Linked DNA regions of Homo sapiens: regions 1, 2 and 3 are each reported to be linked to region 4. The links are microRNA targets in miRTarBase. Many come from high-throughput screens and were not tested one by one. Region 4 holds a microRNA gene; each other region holds the end of a gene's coding sequence.

Region 1 (4,064 bases), not on the chromosome of region 4:
AATGCCAGCCTGCTGAAGGGGAGCCATGCCGAGGGGACACTGTTCAAGGCACTTGAATACTGCTTAGCAAGATGAGAGATTAACCCTTAGACTCCAACTGAGGGGCCCAACCAGGAGGGGGTGCTCCCCTGGCCACGGATTGCTGTATTATTTTAGTGGCAGCTCTTAGAAGTATTACAGACAGTGCTAGCTTCACATCAAAGATCTAAGGTTAGGATCTCTATTTTTTTTAAAAAAATAAATAATAGAGGAAAAAAAATACACAGAACTGCAAGCAAAATTTAACCAACTGATTGTATCTGGCACCAGATGTAAGTCTGGCAAAAAAGACAGAATGGGAACCAACAGTAACCTAGTTAAAAATCTAAGAAGTAAAAACAGAAAAGAGAAAACAACACATATGACTAAATTGCTTGGGAGGGTCAAAATGACTGCATTTTAGACTGTTACTGTTTGGCCACTAGAATGGACAAATCTGTATTTGTCAATTTCCTCAGATTTAACACCTTTGTAAATAACAGTCATGCCTTTAAAACTAAACCCTAGCCTACTATTTCCTGTTAACTTCTTTTCATTCTTATGAAAATTAGACGATATTTAAAGATTCATCACACATGATGACAAAAGTCCCTTGAGGGTTTTGTGGAGAGGACACCACAGTCGTCAGGGCTCTGCCACTCACTGTCCTAAGGGTCACCGATGTGAACTCACTCTTCTCAATGCACCTGAATCGAGCTAGATGTTGACCCGTGTCCCCTTAAGCTCCTCTAATTTTGAATTCTCTTCTCCCTGAACTGGATTTCAAGTTCAGAAATGATACCCCCAACAAAAGACAAACGAACAGCCTGCCTCCCAGCCCCCTAGAGCCTTCTGAAAACTTCTTATTCATGAAAAGGCATTGTCTTTAGTGTAGTGACTCTTGAAATTTGTGAAAACGTGAACTAAGTGCTGCAGCTGCAGGTTAAAAGACTGTAAATGAAATAATCTCTAAAACATCATGCAAGAAACGTGGTTTCACATCTTACAGTCAAAGTCCTACAAGTTAATTAACAAGCACACGGAGGTGGAACAGCCAGAGCATACCTTTAAAATTATAACTCCCTCCCACCCCCCAAATAAAAAAAAAAGTAATATTAATTAAACTTAAGAAATAATGAATGCACCATTAAAATGTCATCCAAAGATGTTGACCTAAGACAAAGGTTTCAATGATACACAATACGGTCAAAAAGTTTTCAATCAGTAATATACAGTATGACAACTACATCTTGTAAATTATACCCAATACTGCCGGCAGTCTATCCCTCTAAAGAATATTTGCCCCTTTCATCCCTTCCTAACAATCAGATAATAAAATACAGCACCTATAAATAAGCAAAAAAAAATATATATATATACCGAAATCATCTATTGTTAGTTTAAAGATATGGCAATAAAGAAGTCTAAATTAGCAAACTTGTAGAAGCCGTAACTGATAAAACAGCTTATTGAAAAAGGTGGCAGTAATGCACTCTACGTGTGCACAGGTACTTAAGAAAATACACAGACGTATAAAATTGCACACACGCACACGCACGCACACTCTCACCCGCCTCTATTCTCACGCATATACACATAGACAAGGGAGGAATCAGAGACAAGTTAGACTTTCAGTTTGTACTTAGACTGCCCTAAAACTGTGCATAAAAAGAACTAAGAGGCGAAATGAAAGAAGGGCAAATGGTAGGTTTGGAAGTTGAAGAGCATCCACGTTTTGGTGTGAGTTTGGGCCATTTCTACAGGGATGGGAGTGGGGAGCCCAGAATGCCACGTTCTCTCTCCTGCAGAGAAAGGAAGTTTCCCACGAGTTCAACAGGGTCATCAGTGCTTGCGGTGGGAAGAAAAAGGGAAAGAAGAGAGAGAGTGCGCGTGTAAGCCCTGCCCAGGCCTGGGGAGTGTCTTCCCCTGGGAGGGCTCAGTTCATCAGGTATCCAGGAGAGTGGTGTGAGGTGAGGTGCCTTCTGTGCCAGAGAGAGATCCGTAGACTGCTATCTACTTGGGGATGGGCCCGTCTGGCCCTGGAACTGCCTGCTGTGCTCGCCCGGACTACTCTCTCCTTTCTTTCAATGCTTGCACACGTGCAGACGCACAGACAGATTGAGACACCATAAATTAAACAAAATTAACAGGTACATGCTACAGTTCTAACTTGTCTCCTAAACCTCCAAGATATGAGGTCTGATCAGCGTGCTCTGCGGTTAGAGGTTAAAAAGCAGATTATAAAATACCTAGATTCGGATCTTTTCTTTTTTTTTTTTCTTTTTTTTTCTTTTTTTTGTCCTGATTTGGCCTAGAATGGAGTGTATTAAACAAACCCTGGTCTGCAAAACCCAGGGTCAGTTAAAGCTATACATCAATGTGCACTACATGTCAGGATTCTATTCACGTACAAGAAAACACTATGTCAGCTACCACAAAATCAGAGTTTCCTGATGTGACGTTTTCTTTTTGTTAAAAAATATGTGGAGTAAATGTGTTTTATTTTAATTCAAAGTTTCAAACGAGAAGATTCTTTTCTTGAAAATATTTAGGAATCCAAACTAGTGTGTTTAGAGTCGTTTTGACTGTGCAATCTCTTAGTGGCAACTGAACAGCTACAAAAACTTTCTTTTTTAATTTTTCTGAAAAATCCCACCCCCCCTTTTATTTTTTCCTGGTTTAAGAAGATAATAGTGTATTATCGCTCTGAAGCCATTAGATGGCAGATAAAAAGCCCCCTTTTAATATGTGGGTTTGATTTTTTTTCTTTTAAAGCCCACACGGAACAGGAGGACACAAGGCAAAGCTGTAAGAGTTATTCCAGAACCTGTGGAAATCACTTAGGGCAATAAAAAAAACACTTCAGGGTACAAAAAAGCTCGACCACACATTTCCGTTTTCTTCCTTGAAAACACGACATAGATTGGGCTTAATGCTCCTTTGTTTTCTATATGCACCTTGGCCTATGGCGATTTTGCCCTGTGGCCCGCAGGGCGGTAAGTGCGCAAAGCGGTCCAGGGGTCCAGGCCGCGGGCTGGGTCTGGGCCGCGGGGTTGGTGGAGGCCGCAGGGTCGGCCCGGGCCGCAGAGTGGGTCTGGGCCGCGGCCTTGGATCTGGGCCTCGGGTCGGTGCAGGCCGCGGACCGTGGAGGGGGTCTGGGCTGCGGGCTCAGGTCCGGCCCGGGGTCGGTGCAGGCCGCGGGCCAAGCCCAGGCCACGGTGTCCGCAGCGCCTGCCCCGTCCGACCCCGTCCAGGCCCTTGCGGCCCAGCCTGGCTGCCCGCCCCAGGGCCGCGGCCCCTCAGAACTCCCATTCGATAGGTTCCTCCCGGCTGGCGGCCTTCTCCAGGCGGTGGATGATGCTGTTCAAGTTCGCGGCCTTCTTCTTGCGCAGGGGGTTGTCGCGCGAGTCCCGGGCGCCCGCGGCCTCGGGGAGGCCGAAAAGGCTCTGCAGCGAGCTGGGCCTGCGGGGGGCGCTGCTGCTGCTGCTGTTGCTGGGCGGCGGCGCGGAGCTCGGGGCCGCGGGGCCCTCCCCCGGCGCGGCGGCGGCTGAGGTAGCGGCGTCCTCGGGGGCCGCGGGCGCGGCGGTGGCGGTCGCGGAGGCGGGGCTGGGCAGGGGCCCCGGGCCTTCCACGGGGCCTCCCTCGTGGTCGTCGTCGCGGGCGTCGTCCGGGCCCGGGGTCCCCGAGGGCGGCGGCTCCGTCTGCTCCGCCGGCCGCGGCACCTCCTCCCGCTCGGCCTCTCCCTGAGACTTGGGCTCCTCGGTGTCGGCGCTGCCTGGGCCCTCAGTGGCCTCCACGCCGTCGCAGCTGTCGCCCTCCGAGCTGGGCGCCGCCCGGCCGCTGCGGGCCGAGGGTGAGTCGCTGGCGCCCGCCTGGCCCTGACTCCCGGCCTGAATTTCCTCAATGAACAGTTCTCTGCGGATCCGAGACCTACAAGACAACAAGCGGCGGGGACGTGAGGGGGGTGCTGCTGGGGAAAGGGCCTCTGGTGCTACCCCAGCCAGACCCCTCTCTCTGGGGCTCCTGCTCCGTCCAGCCTGGAGGCC
Region 2 (4,064 bases), not on the chromosome of region 4:
AAGCACATTCACTTTAGTTTTGGCTAGTGCCAAAGAGAATTAGGAAGGCATTTCTGCTGTAAAAACCACATCCTGGACTCTTAATTTCCCCTCTCTCCACTAGCATGGAGACTCAGTGGAGTGGTTGACTCATGGAAAGGGTGAGCCGGATGGTGGCACTGGATCTGACGTTGATCCTCTTTTCCCTCCCAACCCCCTGTCCCCCAGACGATGCAGGGTGAGGGCCCCCAGCTGCTTCTCTCAGAGGCTGTGAGCCGGGCAGCTAAGGCAGCCGGAGCTCGGCCCCTGACGAGCCCCGAGAGCCTGAGCCGGGACCTGGAGGCACCAGAGGTTCAGGAGAGCTACAGGCAGCAGGTGCCACCTTGAAGCAGAATAGGGATGGTCTAGTGGGAGGGGTTGGGCTAGGGTCCCTCTTCCCTGGATCCCTTCAGCGATGAACTGGTCAGCCTGGTGCTACCATTTGTTTTCCCCTTTGGCATCTGGGAAGGCTTGACAGTGCCACCCCGGGCTATTTGACAGTGTGCTTGGGGGGGGAAATGTTAGCTTCTGAGGGATGGCCTTGTGTGCTTGCTGGGATCATGGGGACTTGGCCAGCGTTTCTCCAACCTGCTTACTTTTTCTCTTTAGCTCCGGTCTGATATACAAAAACGACTGCAGGAAGACCCCAACTACAGTCCCCAGCGCTTCCCCAATGCCCAGCGGGCCTTTGCTGATGATCCTTAGCTCTTTGCTCTATGGCCCTTCCTCATCAGGGGACCGTTTCCCCCCTCTTCCTTCACAGTATTTAAGAAATAAAAGTCGGATTTTTCTGGCTGCTTTCTCTCTACATTGTCTCCATTAGGTAGTGTGTCCCTTAATCTTGTGTGAACTTTTTTAAATTAATACTTCCTTGGAACACTGTTGTGTTCTACTCAGCACGCTAAATTGTACAAGCCAGTTTTGATGTTTGTTTTTTTTTTTTTTTGAGACAGAGTATTGCTGTCTCCCAGGCTGGAGTGCAGTGGCCCGATCTCGAGCTCGGCTCACTACAACCTCCACCTCCCGGGTTCAAGTGATTCTCACTCATGCCTCAGCCTCCTGAGTAGCTGGGACTACAGGCGTCCGCCACGACGCCCGGCTAATTTTTGTATTTTTAGTAGAGACAGGGTTTCACCATATTGGCCAGGCTGGTCTCGAACTCCTGACCTTGTGATCCACCCGCCTTGGCCTCCCAAAGTGCTGGAATTACAGGCGTGGGCCACCGCGCCCAGCCTGATGTTTGTATTTTTTGTGCGAAAGCACTTTATATATAAATAAAAAACCTGTATTTTGAGTTGGGAGCATATTCCAGGTGCACACTAGCATAGAGCTCTCAAATTACCCATCAAAAAAAGTTTCTGAGCAGCTGCAGACCTAAGTATAGTCTTTAGCATAACTAGCATGCAGCGTTACCATGTGAAATCCCACTTAGTTTGACAATGCTGGAATTGGTCTATCCAATTCAAAGAGCCCCTTAAGTGTGCTCCAACATTGAGGCCTTAACAGAGATTTCCCCTTAGTTCATCATAAAGAACTGAAGTCCCATGGCTGCAAATTCTTTGCTAGTCCCTTTGAGATGCAGTTGAAGTCCCTTCTAAACCCCCCCATCCCCTACCTTGGCTAGTTTAGTGCTCTTATCAACTAAGCATGGCATAAGCTTAGAAAATTCCAGCTAGACCTCTTGGAACATGAGCTCACGGACATTTAACAGGCCTGCTGGAGAGTCCATGTGAAGACACTGGTTGATAACCCAGTAATGTTACAGATGTCCCACCAAGGCCCTAGATATGCAAAGGAAGCCATATTGGGACCAGCCCAGGTGTCAGCTGCAGACTGATAACCAGTTGACCTCGCTCACTGGCACAAAAAAGCAGATTTATCCAGCTGAGCTCAGCCCAAATTCCAGACTCACAAAAATTTAAAGATCCAATACGATGGTCATGTTTTTAGTTTCAACAGCTCACTGGAATAAGTAATGAATATTTCCCTGACTGAAACTACAGATCACTCAGCACCATGCTTTAAGACAATGCAAACAACTCATCCCCCAAATCATTGTAGAAGTTTTTTTTTTTAAATCCTTTTATTACTCTTTTTTAACAAACAGCCCCAGGGACAGGGGACCAGGGGAAGGGGGAGGAGGGGAAGTGAGGCCCCAGCCCCAGAACCCCTCCCCGCCCACCCCTTTCCCCCTTATATATTTATAATCTATATACAAGCCCCGGGGGTAGGGGGCAAGAGGAACTCCCTCAGCGGGGTGGGGGCAACCCAGGCTCCTTGTCCCCTCGGGACCCAGGCTCCTCTGCCCGTCGGGAGGGCCCTTCTCGAGGTGGCGGCCCTGTCCGCTCCCAAGGCTTAGGTATCCAGCGCAGGGCATCTGGTGGGGAGGCCTAGGGGACAGGCATGTGTTAAACAGTGAGTCACAGTGAGAGGTCAGCGATGAGACGGAAGGACAGGAAATCAGGTGGCAACTCGAATTTAGAGTTGGGGCCACAAGGGTTTCTCCTTCACCTGCTGGTAAAGGTCGACGCGCTGGGTGCGGAAGACTCCACTGTAGGTGGAAGGCGTGGCCTTGAGACGGGAATTGAGGCCAGAGAAGGACCTAAGGGAAGAAGGGCGTCTAAGGCAAGCCTAGGATCCAGACCCTGGTTCCAAAGTAAGGAAGCACTTGGAAAGTCCACATCCCTATTCCGTTTCACCTTCCAGTTGGGGGAGTCCGTGATGATCCAGGTCCCCCAAGGTTGCTGCTCAGTTTTTGATAATCCTGGAACGGCTTTAGTTCCACTGGATGCAGCTGAGGGGAAAAAAATCATGAGCTGCCTACCTTGAAATACAGAATCCCTACTCCCAAGTCTTGGCGCTCCCTAGCCCCTCAGTTCCTGTACCTTACCTCTGCTCGCCCCAAGCTAGCGGGGAAGGGCCTGGCAGGTGAAGGCAGCACCCGAGTAGCAGGAGCAGGTGGGGGCCGCACAGCCAGGCTGGGGGGCTGCAGAGCAGGGCCCACAGGTAACAGAGAAAGGGGAGGTGGGGCAGGAGGTGGTGCTGGCGGCAGGGAGCCAAAGTTCACCACAGGCAGCTGTGAGTCTACCATGGGTAGAAGCATCTGTAACAAGAAATTTGGGTGTGCATGTTGGGGGCAGGGAGGAATGTCAGAAAACCAGGGAAAATCAAAGCCAGCAACTGGACAGAGAAATCAAATGAAGGGGAAGTGTGAAGATACAATATACCTGCTGGGCAGGAGCCCCTGAAGGGAGAAAGCCACTTTGGCCACCAGGCTGCAGAGGAGTAGAATAAAAATCCGAAGGGGATGGCAGATCCTGGCGTACCTGTCGGGAAACAGGGAGAAATATATCAACCCCCACAAAATCATTCTCCCTACCCTATCCCCCAATATCTAATACCTGCCCCCCTCTTACCTGAAGCAACGATGTGTCAGGCAAAGGACTGGGGCAGAAAGCCGGAGAGTAGAGGAAGGAAGGTGGAGGGTAGAGAACTCCTCCAGCCGGCAACTTCCCCAGCTCTGTAGCTTGCATTGTGGAGAAATCCAGAAACTGGCCCTTGAGAGCTAACCCAGAGAGCAGTGCTGAGGGAGGGGCTGGGCCGGGGGGTAGGTATAGGGGCTGTGATCTGAAAATAAATTGTGGGGAGAAAAGCTGTTAGGAAGCCAGAGTCCTAGCAATGCCTTAAGTCCACTAGCTTCTAGTACCCTAGAACTGTGTCTTCCCCTTCCCTCTCCCCGAAACACATCTCCAAGTACTTCTGTGATCCACAGGCATCGAGTCTTACCTGTAAGGGTGCAGTGAGGGTGTCCCAGGGCGGAAGCCTCCACTGTTTGGATGTAATTGAGAGTCCATGGCTCCCCCAGAGATCTGCAGGAGAGGAGCACGGTTGAAACAGCTTTAGTATCTGTGGTCAAGAAAAAAGATCACCATCCCACCCATAGAAGCAAAAAGTAGGGAGAAAAATGATGTGACAAAGTGGTATCTCACAACTCTGCAACGTAGAAAGGCTTGATTATAAATACATACCAGGCAGAAAAAAATTAT
Region 3 (4,064 bases), not on the chromosome of region 4:
TTCCTGGGCACACATGCAGGCTGTTCCCTACCTGAGACCAGTCACAGACTATCCCCATGCCACGCCTCCACCCCAGCCCCCACCAGGACCCCAGCACCAGTGCCTTTCCCAGCCCTTCCTGAGTTACAGGGTGCGGGGGAGCCTGGGAAAAAAGAAGAAAAAGAAAGCACTCACTGGCCTCCACCCGGGGCCCCTGCCCCTCCCAAGGCCATGACCCTCACTGCCCGCTCCCCCGGCTCTCCCCTGCCCCAGTTCTCCACCTTCATCAAGGCTCAAGTGAGTGAGGGCAAAGGACGCCTCATGCCTGGGCAGGACCCTGAGAAAACCATAGGAGACATGTTCCAGAACCAGGACCGCAACCAGGACGGCAAGATCACAGTCGACGAGCTCAAGCTGAAGTCAGATGAGGACGAGGAGCGGGTCCACGAGGAGCTCTGAGGGGCAGGGAGCCTGGCCAGGCCTGAGACACAGAGGCCCACTGCGAGGGGGACAGTGGCGGTGGGACTGACCTGCTGACAGTCACCCTCCCTCTGCTGGGATGAGGTCCAGGAGCCAACTAAAACAATGGCAGAGGAGACATCTCTGGTGTTCCCACCACCCTAGATGAAAATCCACAGCACAGACCTCTACCGTGTTTCTCTTCCATCCCTAAACCACTTCCTTAAAATGTTTGGATTTGCAAAGCCAATTTGGGGCCTGTGGAGCCTGGGGTTGGATAGGGCCATGGCTGGTCCCCCACCATACCTCCCCTCCACATCACTGACACAGCTGAGCTTGTTATCCATCTCCCCAAACTTTCTCTTTCTTTGTACTTCTTGTCATCCCCACTCCCAGCCCCTTTTCCTCTATGTGACAGCTCCCTAGGACCCCTCTGCCTTCCTCCCCAATCCTGACTGGCTCCTAGGGAAGGGGAAGGCTCCTGGAGGGCAGCCCTACCTCTCCCATGCCCTTTGCCCTCCTCCCTCGCCTCCAGTGGAGGCTGAGCTGACCCTGGGCTGCTGGAGGCCAGACTGGGCTGTAGTTAGCTTTTCATCCCTAAAGAAGGCTCCTTTCCCTAAGGAACCATAGAAGAGAGGAAGAAAACAAAGGGCATGTGTGAGGGAAGCTGCTTGGGTGGGTGTTAGGGCTATGAAATCTTGGATTTGGGGCTGAGGGGTGGGAGGGAGGGCAGAGCTCTGCACACTCAAAGGCTAAACTGGTGTCAGTCCTTTTTTCCTTTGTTCCAAATAAAAGATTAAACCAATGGCCTTAGGGTGTCTTTTGGACCAGGTTGAGGGGCAGGGGGGAATGGCTAGGGGATGAAGTGGGGATTGTGGGAGGCCTTTAGACCCAGAGATTGGGGAAAAAGTTAAACCAGGCTGTTTCCATGGCCTCATTAGCTCCAGACAGCATGTCCCCAGGTCAGGGGCTCCCCATCTGGAGGTTTCCTGCCTGCCCTGGGCCTAACCTGGGGTCTTCGCTGTGGGAAGGGAGCCCTGCTCTGTGGAGGGGGTGAATGTGTAAAGAGGGGAGGCCTCCAGCAGGGTGTGGAGAGATGATCCTCATCCTCCAATTGTCCCCATTGAATGGGAAAGACAAGGTCCCTGACCTCAAACACAACCTACAAAGTTCAAGGATTAAACCACACAAGTCAGATTATCCTTTCCCATAGATCATTTCCAATACTATGATATTCCCATCTCTCCCTGCTCCTGGCCACCACCTGTTACCACCTGCCCACCCTTCTCCCTCTTGCTAGGGGAAAGGTAATGGAGTTCAGATCTCCACAGTGTCTTGCAGGAGGACTTCAGCCACCAACCAGGCCATCTGTCCTCGCTTGCCTGGTATGACCCGAGCATTGTGAGGACGGGGTGGTGACTTAGGAAAGAAAATGACAGGACTGGACTCATACAGCAAACTGCCCCCATCAGCACTTCTTGCCCAGGGTCCCCTAAGAGACGTGACTGCTCCCCACGGGCAATGACCGACATTCTCTGGCCCCGAAGCATCCAGAAAGCTCCCTGATTGAAGTCTTTTTTTTTTTTTTTTTGAGACAGGGTCTCGCTCTGTCACCACAGCGCAGTGGTATGATCTCAGCTCACTGCAACCTCCGCCTGCCAGGTTCAAGTGATTCTCCTGCTTCAGCCTCCTGAGTAGCTGGGATTACAGGCACGGGCCACCAAGCCCGGCTAATTTTTGTATTTTTAGTAGAGACAGGGTCTTACCATGTTGGCCACACTAGTCTCAAACTCTTGACCTCAAGTGATCTGCCACCCTGGCCTCCCAGAGTGCTGGGATTACAGGCGTGAGCCACTGCGCCGGCCAAGAAAGCTCCTTGATTAAAGTCTGGAAGTGGTTACTAACCCAGCCTCAGATGGTGGCCACTCCCTCCTCCCAAAAACGAATGGAACAGGCCTGAAGCAGAGAAATGCAGCAAAACGCATGGGCTTTGGTCAGAAACATTCAAATCCTGGCTCCAGCTCCTAGCTATGGAGTTTGGGCAAGTTACCCATCCTGCCTGAGCCATCTGGAAGCAGGAGGAGCTGCACCTACTTGTGGGGTCATTGTGAGGGTCAACTGGCAGGCACCCAAGTGCCCAGAGTGGCACCTGGGACACCGCAGGCCTTCAGTAACATCTGTATTACCTCCCGCTTCACATCTGCAGAATAACAGAACTTTCCAACGGCTAGCCGAACACTGCAGGAAGGGTGCTGGTGATTTCCTCTAAGGCTAAGAAAATGCTGAACTGGCTCTTCAGGGTCGGCCCAATAACGCAAGACCACAGTGCACACATCACTTGTTTCACCTTGGCACAGTCTCCCTCAGGTCCCTGCTCTAAATTCCCCTTTTCAGGTCATCCACTTTAGTGGCCCCGACCCATAAGAGGAGGGGAAAGGAGAGCCTAGGGCATAGGGGGACAGCCACACACGAATGCATCCCCTCAGGGATCCCTAAAGAGGGGGCTCTCAGACAGGGTTGCCTCAACCCCACCGATCCCAAATGAATTTCAAGTTTGATGGCTGAATCAGAATAAAGTCAAACCACTATAGGCTAGAACATACCCTTTCAGCCCCACGCTGAACCAGACAGACACAATCAGGCTGTGCTCGGATGGGGTCTCAGGCCAATTTGTGGTGGTTCTCAAACTGTGTTCCTAGAAGCATCCCATGTGCCCCCAGGGCCAAGAGGTCCAGGTTCTACCCCCACCCACATCCCCTGAATCAGAGCAGCTTTTTTTTCATTTTAAAAATTTTGATCTGTTTCACACATTATATTTGTTTGAACTTCCCATGTTTAAAAATTTTGAAGAAAATCCCTGGAGTAGACAATCCCTAGAGCACTGACATGCTGTGGTCCAAGGTTCACCAGGAACAGTGCCTGTGCCCTGCCACATGGCGGGGTTCCTTCAAGCCTCTGGTGATGAAGGTGCTCAGGGAAAGGAGGACGGAGGGGCGCGGAAGGACCCAGCCACTGCTGGCCACCCTGGCCTCTGCTCTGTGTTCACGGGGGAGCAGACTCTGGGGAGGCGCCCCTCCTCACCACGGCCTGCAGGCCGGGCTGGAGCCTGCGCCTTCAGGGGCCTTGCATCTCCAGCTGGACCCCCTGGCACAGGATGTGCTGCAGTAGCCCGTTGACCACATCCAGAGTCTCGTCCTTCTCCAGCACGATGTCATAGGAGTCCATGTAGCGCTCCCGCCGCTCCTCCACCTGCCCGGAATGAGAGGCAGAAGCCAGAGGGTCCCCAAATGCCCTGCCCTCCGTAGCTCACTCTCAAAGCCCCTGGGGCTGGGGAGGAGAGCATTCAAGCAGCAACTCCCAGCTCCCTTTTGAGAGCCAAAGGAGTTCAAGGTTACCGGGCCTACCCTTTGGAGACAGACGAGGGATGGGCATGGGCTACCACAATTAACCCTTGGGTCAATACAAAAGAACAGTAACAAGGAATAAAAACAAAAAACCAGATGTTGCCACTTTGGGAGGCTGAGGCAGAAGGATCATCTGAGCCCAAGAGTTTGAGACCAGCCCAGGCAACATGGCAAAAGCCCATCTCTACAAAAATTGGCCGGGCATGGGGGTGGGTGCCTGTA
Region 4 (4,064 bases):
CCAGCCCGAAATGCCATCTCCATCACTTCATATTTCATTACCGAAACTACTCAGGGTTTCTCAGAGCCATTTGTTATGCCTAATGCTCATAACTACCCCAAAGTATTTTTAACTTTTCCAGAGCTTTAAAAGTCAATTTCAATCTCAGTGCATATTTGTCACTGCCAGAAATACTTAGTAATAGAGGACCGACTGCAATAGGCTGTTGCTTCTTCTCTTTGGGGTGAGTTCAGACAGAAGAGATCCCAGAGGATTTGAAGAAGGGCCATAAAACTCAACCTCGGCTGAAACCAGCCTTGGAAGAGCTGATGTCATCTGGCATCTTGCCTGCTCCTGCCCCTGGAGCCCTCCTCCCCTTTCGCGGGCAGCTCAGAACAACGACACTTGGTACGTGATCACAGACAAGCTTTAATAGACGGGGGGGTGGGGGTAGGAGGTGGAAATTACAGCAACACAATTTTATTATACATCCCTGTCCTACAGCCACTTCCCAGGAGGAACACTTGTCACATTTGGATGACCAGGGGTGTGGGACAGGTAGGGAGCCAAGCTCCCATGTTTGAATGGACTTGGCTGGGTTGGGATCAGAGGCCAGCACCAGGTCCAGGATGGCTGCTGCCATCAACGGTATGCATTTTGTATCATCCTTTGGGCAGCCAGTTTGCTGACTGGGAGTCATAAATTCATTGTTATCTGATCATCATGGACTTGCTAACTCATGTTTCCAGAGCTCTCCTCCCCTATTCCCAATATCCCTAAGATGAGTGGAATAAAAGAAAGGAGGAAAGAAGCAGAAAGAGGAATTGGGGGGAGCGTAAGTCCTGTCAGGCCTCATCAGCTTGAAAAGACAGTGATGTGAATAAGCAAAGGGTCATAAGTGATGAATGACTAAGGAGAACACTGCCAGGCACACAGACATCCACTCATGGGCAAGGCTGGGGGACCAGCTGCCAGTGGCTGGAAGATGCCAACTGTTTTACTAGGAGTTTGGTCACCAGTTGGGCAGGGAGCCGTCCTAGTAAGCTATCCCCTTTGGAGTCTATTATGAGTGCAGCCATCTGCCTGAAAACAGAGGGAAATACCCATGGTCTGAGGCTGGCACTGCCTCATCACAGCCTGTGGCTGCGGGGCCAGTAAAGCACTGATGGAAGGGCACCATTATGGACCCACTCCCAGAGGCCTGGTCCCTGCCATGTTAGGGGCAGTGCCGAGGGCCTCAGAATGCCCCTCTCTGTAAGGTGGGAAAGGGAACTTCTCCAGGCTCGAGGATTTGCTCTGTGTTAAATGGGATCTTTGTATGTCCATGCTGGAGAGGAACAGCCATTTGAATAATGCTTTCTCTCTTACTCAAGTTCTTTCTACTAACAGATGAAAGTCTGAAAGGGAGAGTTTAAGCAAATTTCAAGTCCCTATCAAATCACAGTTTTTAAATGTTCTAATTCAAGGCAATGGGGTTGTCCACAGCTGGGAAGGTGGGTATTACAGCAGTACAGTGCAGCCATTCTGGAATCAGATGACCCTGGGTAAGTTAGCTAACCTCTCTGAGCCTCAATATCCTCATCTGTAAAGTGGGACTTTAGATTTTGTGAACATTAAACAAGGTAATGATGTGAAAACAGTTCACTGCCTGGCCTATAGCAAGCACTCAATGTATGTTAAAAAACTACTAAGCAATGGTTGGGCTCCTGGTTCTGAGGGGTAACCTCAGATAGACGAGGTAATAAGAGTCACACCTCATGATGGGGGCCCAGGGCTCAGCTTCTAGTTCTGAGCTAGGCTAAAGTTCCCACCTTAGCTCTCTCTTGCAGAATAGGACAAAGACTCCAGGACAGGAATGAACAACACAGTCTTCTGGTTACACTGGGTCTAGGATTTATCAAGGAACAAGCAAAATAAGAGGTACCAAGATCCCTCTCTTTATTATCAGAGATAGCAGGTTTCCACGTCCACACACACTCCCCTCCCCTGAAACAGAATTAGCACCAGGTGAGGAGCCCAGCACCTCCACGTTAACTGTGCTTTGCAGGTCAAGGAAACAGACTGGACTTTAGGTTTCATGGGGTTCAGGGACTGTGTTTTCATAAAGTATGGGAATGAGGTTCAGAAGGAACCTTGGGTTAAACCCAAAGTCTCAGACTCACATGAGTTTCACCCATTCTCATGCTGACGTTCATTTCAAATAAAGTGAATACCAATAAAGGTGGTGGTGGGAGGGGTCGGGGGTCACAAGCAGTAGGAATTCCCCTTTGGGTTAGCTGCCACTTGGAAAAATGACCTTGGGTTGGGACTCTCCCATGAAACCATGGGGCGTATGCCTTGGGTATACTTGTTCCCTTCCAGTGGAAGAAGAGACACAGTAGTTTCTGAGCTTGAACCTAGTTATTACTCCTTGTCTGACATCCAGACTAGATTTGGGGGAGGGTGACTCCATTTTGGGAAAGAGATGTGGATACAGATCTCTTTCCCCAGGGTGCTTCTCCAGACCCATTTCCCTCTGTATCTGCATCCTTTGAGACTCCTACCCTCCTGCCTTTGGTGAGTTGAGACTGGGAGAGGTGGGTCTGGCAGGTGGTGGGCTGCGGTGCTCCAGAGCAGAGGAGAGGTGTCCAGCGGTGGTGGCGGCGGTGGCGGGCCATGCTGCAGGAGAGCACGGTGCTTTCCGCGGTGCTTGACAGAACCATGTTCCGTTTCCATCGTTCCACCACATGGTTAGATCAAGCACAAAGGAAAGCCCCGCAGCGACTGGTCAGAGTCAAGGTCAGGAAGCAGCGTCAGAGAGAGGACAGGAGCGCTCAGAGGAAGCAGCGTGGAGAAGCGGAAGCCGGAGCAGGCCCCCACTGAGCGTGATTAGTATCAGGAGTGGGGTTCCACTGGAACACTTCCGAAGATTGCAGCCCTGCTGCCCTTGTGCCCCACCCCAGGGAGACACAGTAGGAAGGGAGAAGAACGGGAGGGAAATCACTGGATGCCCATACTCGGGAGCTTCAGGACAGCATGGTTCCTTCCCAAGGAAAGAAAGAACACTCAGACATCTGTGATCCTATCACATGCCTGAATTGAGCCTCTAAACTCCATTCAGTCACACCAGTTGGTCTGACAAGACATTAAACTTAGAAAAGCATCTTCTGCATGCTTTGCAACATAGGCCCAATCCCCCCAACAGCTGAGTGGTTCCATCACAGTCATTCCTCTAGCCCCTTAAGTCAAGAGACAATCCACAGTTCCCAGTGGTCTAGCAAACCTTCAATGCTGTTCTTTAGGAAAAAGCCCCCTTTGACATTCCACAATTCAGGAGTCTCCTTTATATCCTTTGAGGTCAGCAGGAATGCTCTGGCTGATAGACACTCATCCCAGATCATTTGAGGTTTAATAGAGGAGCAGTGGGGTGTCAAAAGAAAATATATCTCTCTAGCCAGAGAGAAAGACAGGAAAACAAATGGGGCCGTAGGGTTTGGACTGAGGAACCTGCAATCATAGTTGTTGTTTGAGAACACTGACTTTCACAGAGATGGTGGCCAGTGCGCCTCCTGATGAAGGGCCTCTTTGAGACTAAGAGAAGGAAGGAAAGGGAAGCCAAGTGATGAGTCTGAGGGGAAGACACTGAATTCTGGGGTCCTTCTTGATTTCTTGTTCTCTTCCTTAGCTGGAAATTATGGGAGCGAACAGGATGAACCAATAACCACTGTCAGGATGCCAAAGGCCCAGGTGAGGGTACCCAGTTTTTATATTCCTCTCTGTGATAGATCAGGGTCAGTTTCCATGAACCTGCTGACTTGGGACTTCCTCCCACTTGGCATTAGGCTGGAGATGTGCATCTTGAAGAAACTGGAGCTAAGGCTAAGTGACTGAGACCCTCCCTGCCTGACCTCTGACATGAGAACCAGTATCAACATTCTTCCACTATGTGTTTTTGGGACTGGGCATATCCTCTAGATGGTCTCAGCATCTCAACGGTGCATAGGTTGTCTGCCATGTTGGACCAGTTAGGAAGAGCCAGCCCACAGCTCTGGGTCTGTCTGGCCTCTCCTCCTTCCTAAGGTCTCTCATCACACGCACTAGAGTCA

The links. Region 4 holds the annotated microRNA hsa-miR-218-5p (UUGUGCUUGAUCUAACCAUGU, at 2,704-2,724, opposite strand). A microRNA usually pairs through its seed, bases 2 to 8, with sites in the 3' UTR of a target mRNA and lowers its output. Matches are read on the target gene's strand: a 7mer-m8 pairs with bases 2 to 8, a 7mer-A1 pairs with bases 2 to 7 and ends in A, and an 8mer does both.
Region 1: the mRNA of CUX1 is a reported target of hsa-miR-218-5p. The part of its 3' UTR that is shown has no 7-base or 8-base seed match.
Region 2: the mRNA of BAG6 is a reported target of hsa-miR-218-5p. The part of its 3' UTR that is shown has no 7-base or 8-base seed match.
Region 3: miRTarBase lists FKBP10 as a target of hsa-miR-218-5p. The part of its 3' UTR that is shown has no 7-base or 8-base seed match.

The regions. Positions count from the first base shown.
Region 1 is chr7:102,248,296-102,252,359 of GRCh38, reverse strand. It overlaps CUX1 (cut like homeobox 1), which reads right to left. Exons shown (of 24, transcript NM_181552.4): 24 at 1-3,948. The coding sequence ends at 3,318. Among named protein-coding and RNA genes, the nearest start is that of SH2B2, 37 kb to the left of the region's middle.
Region 2 is chr6:31,635,790-31,639,853 of GRCh38, reverse strand. BAG6 (BAG cochaperone 6) reads left to right here. Exons shown (of 26, transcript NM_001387994.1): 25 at 208-354; 26 at 628-826. The coding sequence ends at 723. PRRC2A (proline rich coiled-coil 2A) reads right to left here. Exons shown (of 31, transcript NM_004638.4): 25 at 3,805-3,887; 26 at 3,435-3,645; 27 at 3,246-3,344; 28 at 2,909-3,121; 29 at 2,718-2,812; 30 at 2,530-2,620; 31 at 2,083-2,408. The coding sequence ends at 2,268. Among named protein-coding and RNA genes, the nearest start is that of MIR6832, 4.0 kb to the right of the region's middle.
Region 3 is chr17:41,821,971-41,826,034 of GRCh38, forward strand. FKBP10 (FKBP prolyl isomerase 10) reads left to right here. Exons shown (of 10, transcript NM_021939.4): 10 at 253-1,243. The coding sequence ends at 438. NT5C3B (5'-nucleotidase, cytosolic IIIB) reads right to left here. Exons shown (of 9, transcript NM_052935.5): 9 at 3,087-3,687. The coding sequence ends at 3,553. Among named protein-coding and RNA genes, the nearest start is that of FKBP10, 11 kb to the left of the region's middle. RefSeq lists enhancers at 1-26, 27-623.
Region 4 is chr5:168,765,508-168,769,571 of GRCh38, forward strand. It overlaps MIR218-2 (microRNA 218-2), which reads right to left and starts at 2,748; the gene lies at 2,639-2,748. The region is part of intron 14 of SLIT3 (slit guidance ligand 3); the gene reads right to left.